Regions from separate parts of the Homo sapiens genome. Here region 2 is linked to region 1. The links come from fine-mapping of genetic effects on gene expression. Tissue or cell type: regulatory T cells. Region 1 holds a variant in brackets; the other region holds the start of a gene. All regions are shown on one strand. Distances are between the middles of the regions.

Region 1 (2,751 bases):
GACTTAATCAAAAAAAAAAAAGGAAAGAAAAGGAATAAGCGTTGGTTATGTTAATCAGTGGTGATCATGATTTATATAGGGTATATAAAAGAAGAAACTACCAGAAGTAACACAGCCCAGGGTGAAGCTGGACAGTCAAGGCGTTCAGATCTCTATATTATTATTAAGAAGAAGTGTTAACTTCAGACTTCACTGCAGCAGATGTGAGTGTTGAAAACTTAAGGGTTCCCAAAGTGTAGAAACAGGTTGCAAATCTTCCAAATAAATACCAGGTAGAAAGAATACTTTCTGAAAACCACCTTGTCCAGGCCGGGCGCGGTGGCTCACGCCTGTAATCCCAGCACTTTGGGAGGCCAAGGCGAGTGGATCACGAGGTCAGGAGATCGAGACCATCCTGGCTAACATGGTGAAACCCCGTCTCTAATAAAAATACAAAAAATTAGCCGGGCGTGGTGGCGGGCGCCTGTAGTCCCAGCTACTCGGGAGGCTGAGGCAGGAGAATGGCGTGAACCCGGGAGGCGGAGCTTGCAGTGAGCCGAGATGGTGCCACTGCACTCCAGCCTGGGCAGCAGAACGAGACTCCGTCTCAAGAAAAAAAAAAAAAAAAAAAGAAAACCACCTTGTCCAGCTTTAATCAAAGGCATAGAAGGCTGGGGGAGGGGCAAGGGAACCAGAGCTGTAACTAAAAATCATAAAATAACATGGCAGCAGCAGTTGTCAGTAAACAGAACTCACCAGCTCGAAAGAATGTGAGATTCGAGGAATTTTTTTTTCTTTAATTTGGCTATGTGGTGTATAAGAGACACATCCAAAACATAATGGTGTCGAAAGGTTGAAAGTTAGGAGTTGGAAACAAGACACTAGGTAAACATTAACCATAAGAAAGCTGCTCTAGCTATAGTCCTAGTGCTACAGCGACAGTGATGCCATATGCAGAATATACTTCAAAATGAAAGAGAGCGGGTAGAAATGTGAAGGGTTACCGCAGGCTCAGAGAAAGTCTCTGGACCTGAAGGCTCAAGGAACATTGATTAAAGTGGACCATCCTCACTGGTGCCGTGGCTTATACCTGTAATCCCAGCACTTTGGGAGGCCAAGGCAGGAGGATTGCTTGAGCCCAGGAGGTCGAGACCAGCTTGGGCAAAAAGCAAGACCCTGTCTCTAAGAAAAAAATAGTAAAAAAACTAGGCATGGGGTGGTGGCTCACATCTGTAATCCTAGCACTTTAGGAGGCCAAGATGGGCGGATTGCCTGAGCTCAGGAGTTTGAGACCAGCCCGGGCAAAATGGTGAACCCCTGTCTCTACTAAAATACAGAAAATTAGGCATGGCGGCTTGCGCCTGTAGTCCCAGCTACTTGGGAGGCTGAGATGGGAGAATCACTGGAATCCAGTAGGTGGAGGTTGCAGTTAGCTGAGATCACACCACTGCACTCCAGCCTGTGCGGCAGAGTGAGACTCCATCTTC[CA/C]AAAAAAAAAAAAAAAAAAAAAAATTAGCTGGCAGATGTCTGTAGTCTGAGCTACTTGGGAGGCTAAGGTGGGAGGATCACTTGAGCCCAGGAGATTGAGGCTGCAGTGAGCTAGGATGGTGCCACTGTGCTGGCTCTAGCCTGGGTGACAGTGAGACCCTGTTTGTAAAAATAATTTTGTTGTTTTTTTTGAGACGGTTCTGTTCTGTTGCCCAGGCTGGAGTGCAGTGGTGTGATCTTGGCTCACTGCAACCTCCACCTCCTGGGGTTAAGCAATTCTCCTGCCTCAGCCTCCTGAGTAGCTGGGATTACAGGTGTCCACCACCACACCCGGCTAATTTTGTATTTTTAGTAGATACGGGGTTTCTCCATGTTGTCCAGGCTGGTCTCGAACTCCTGAGCTCAGGTGATCCGCCCGCCTCGGCCTCCCAAAGTGCTGGGATTAGAGGCGTGAGCCACCGTGCCCGGCCAATAATAATTTTTAAAAAGCAAAAATAAAATCAAAGGAAGGTTTAGAAAATAAAGGGAAAATCTCACAGCAAAATGACAGCTGGTAAATGATATGAAAAAAATAAACAGAGGCTGAGTGTGGGTGTTGCAGTATCCGAATAATATATATTACGAAAAGAGAAAAATATCAATGGAAATTCAAGGAAAAGTGCGGCCAAGACGTCCTTCAGTAGATGAATGGATCAACTCCGTGCATCCAGATGGTGGAACATTATTTAGTCCTGAAAAGATGTTCTCAAGCCGTGGAGAGGCCTGCATGAGCCTTAAGTGCGTATCGCTGAGTGAGAGAAATTATTCTGTGTGACCCCAACTCTCCGACGTTCTGCAGAAGCCAAACTGGCCAGATGCCTGGAATGAGCTCCCCGCGTTCATGAGGGCTGGTTTCCGGCAGTGGCATTGGGAGGCTTTGTTAACATTGGTTCTTGTGCTTGTCTGCCTTGTTTAAGTTCCTTACAAAGAGCATGTGCCATTTTTACAAAATGAAGGAAGTGGGTTCTGTCCCGTAGGGTTGAGGAGCCGAGATGCGGGGACCAAGGGACGTCAGCGCGTTGGTTCTGGCCGCGGGAAAACGGGCGGTCGCTGTGACCGTCTCTGCGCTCTCCGCGTTGCTAACGCCCCACTCCCGGGAAAGACCCGGAGACGGGACCACCGCATGTGGAAACCACCGGGAAGCACAGCGCGTGGGCCGCCTGAGCGGTGCCGGGGCGGGGAGGCAGGGCCGCCGCTCAGGCCGTGGACCTCGGGGCCGCGGGACGGACGTGGATGGCGCCGCCG
Region 2 (2,503 bases), 270 kb before region 1:
AGCCCAGCGGCTTCACTCCCTCCCGAGGGCCCCGTGGCCGCGGCTTTAGGCGTCCAGAGGATCGATCGCCGCCAGACATCCCTGGCCGTGATTGCCCGAGCACTTGACCGCGAGGGATGGGGGCGCCGCGGCCTCTGGGCAGGGGACTCCGGGCGCCCCGAGGGAGCAGCCGGGACCAGTGCCTCGCGGACGGATTGTGCCCCGCTCCCCCAAGGGGGACCCGCGTCGACACGCTCCTCGGTCACCGTCCTCCTCCTGCCCGGGCGCCGCCTGCCTAAGGTGGCCCCAGAAAGCACAAACGGGTCGGGCGGATCTGCCGCTGGCGCCGGCGCAGCCCTTCCCACGTGCTCCTTCCGGCTGATTTATTTCTCCACCACGATGCCAGGCACGGGCACCCTGTGCCAAGCCTGGTTAAGCGCCAGGAGTCCAAAATGCCTGCCATAGTCCCTGCGCAAAGTTCACGGCCTCGTGCCAGGGACAGACAGCGCCCCCTCCCCACCCCAACACAGGGTGGTGAGTGCGATGGCAGAAGGCGCGTGTCCCGGCGCCCCTCCTGGAGTAGGAGGGCTAAGCCTGCCCTGCGGGGAGACCGAAAGGCTGGGAGGGACCTAGGACTGTGGGGGCCTGGGGGGAGGGCTGCAGAAACCCCAGAGCATGGTGGCAGAGGCAGGCACAGAAAGCAGGACAAATCTCACACCTGACCCCAGCAAGCCTTTCCTGGCACACCTCTTGCCAAATGCTGAGCACTCTGGAAACAGCCAGTGCAGGCGGCCTGTCCCGCCCCTGTAGCTGCTGCTGGGAGCCTCCCTCGCCTGCGTCCTCCCAGAATCTGGCCTCACTTCTGCAGGCCTGGGGTAACATCTTGGGGTCAGCGCCCCAGGAGAGGAGGCGCCTGGAGGCAGCAGAGATGTTTATGTAACAGCAGCCAGGCAGCCTGGAGGAGCAGATTTTCCATAGAAGGAAGCGCGGGGCTGTGCAGCTCCCAGGCTGAGGACTCTGCCCACCACGACGTCCTCTGCTCCTGGTGGGTGGGGGTGGGGTGGGGCATAGGGAGGCCCGAAGGCCTCAGGCCTGGTGCTGATCGGGTGCGGGTGCGACTGCCTGTGTGCCTCCATTGGCATCTCTGCCTGTGGGCCCCAGGCCAGAAGTAATGGCCCATGTAGCCCAGGCCCGGGGGCCAGTCCTCAGCATTTTGCGGAGGGGCGGCCTGGGAGGGGAGGAGGGGATCCCTGGATAGGGGGTCTCCCCTGGTCTGCCCCAGCTGTGCCGACAGCACCTCCACCTTGGGCCTCCATCCTCTACCAGCAGAGAAGAGAGTGGCCCATTCGGTGTCCACCCGTCAGGCCACCCAGCAGCCAGGCACGCTCATAAGCCCGCGTTACGGATGGTGCGGCCGGGTGCACAGGCCCGAGGGAAGCACAGGCCTCGGCCTCCCAGCTCCCAACCCCTGCACCACCCACAGCCGGGAGTACCCCATGGACAGCTGTGGCCGAGGAGAAGCCAGGGATGAGGGGGATGGGCCTCACCTCCCCACCAGCCTGGGAAGGGGGTAGGCCCCTGGCAAGTAGGTGAGAAGCTTTTTCATTCACAAGTTGTCCGGGCTCCCCATTCCTCTTTGTCAGGCCAGCGGGTGTGGGCAGTCGGGGGAGGCTGGGGTCCTGACACAACAGGAGTACATCTGCTGGCCTAGGGCCTGGAGACCTTCTCCTACAGGTCGGGAGGCAGCCCTGGGCAGCGGGCATTGCGGGGACTAAAGAGAAACAAGAGCAGGTTGTGTGCAGGGCACCCCAGCCACTCCAGAAACCCAATGGGAGGGTGGGGGCTAGGACCCCAAGAAGCTGAATTGGGGTGCAGTGCCGCCAGGCCTCCCCTGTAGGAGTCACTTTGGGCTTCCTGTCCCAACTTGTGGTGGGAGCTGGGGCAAGGTTCCAGGGGTACCCCGAATGAATGGGGCTGTTCCCAAGCTGGCCAGGGAGCCTGGAAGCAGATGAGATGGGGCCGCAGAGCCTGGTTTGCGGAGGGGAGAGGCAGACGTGTCCTGCAGCCCTCTCTTCTTCAGAGGCCCCCTGCGGGTGCTGAGGGGAGAGTGGCTTAGGCGTTGCACCCCAGGAGACTGAACTGGGTCAGTTCCCCCTTGTTTGCTGCCAGAGAAATGGGGGTACCATTGTCAGGGTGAGCTAAGGAGGCCCTGCTGACATTGGCCCAACCAGGCCCCTCCTTTGCGGCTGCTGTGGGGACTTTCGAGAGCAGAGCACACCCCTAAGTGCGTGGAGAGGTAAGCACAGCTGGTGAGCACACGGGGACAGCGACGGAGCTCATGGAGACCCAGGTGACCTTAAAACACCCCAGGGCCGGCTCCGGCCCCAGAGAGATGTGGTCCGAGTAGAGGGGGGTCAGCAGTGACCTGGTGGGTGGGTGTATTTGAGGGGTGCCTGTGTTGAAAGCTCTGCAGTAGATTCTAAGGAGCAGCCAGGGCTGAGACTCCCGGTGCTGAGCCCAAGGC

Alleles and levels. Alleles are on the strand shown, and positions count from the first base shown. SD is a standard deviation of normalised expression in the study named.
As copies of CA replace C in region 1, the expression in regulatory T cells of the gene that starts at base 1,309 in region 2 goes down (large effect, 1.0 SD a copy in Bossini-Castillo 2019).

The links. PIP is the estimated chance that this variant, and not a neighbour inherited with it, causes the effect.
Region 2: NALT1 starts here. The variant in region 1 is fine-mapped to the expression of NALT1 in regulatory T cells (Bossini-Castillo 2019, PIP 0.95).

The regions. Positions count from the first base shown.
Region 1 is chr9:136,818,734-136,821,484 of GRCh38, forward strand. The region is part of intron 1 of RABL6 (RAB, member RAS oncogene family like 6); the gene reads left to right. Among named protein-coding and RNA genes, the nearest start is that of MIR4292, 11 kb to the right of the region's middle. The variant CA/C (reference allele first, on the strand shown) is at 1,467.
Region 2 is chr9:136,546,534-136,549,036 of GRCh38, forward strand. It overlaps NALT1 (NOTCH1 associated lncRNA in T cell acute lymphoblastic leukemia 1), which reads left to right and starts at 1,309. Exons shown (of 3, transcript NR_121577.1): 1 at 1,309-1,568. RefSeq lists a silencer at 80-179 and an enhancer at 372-1,283.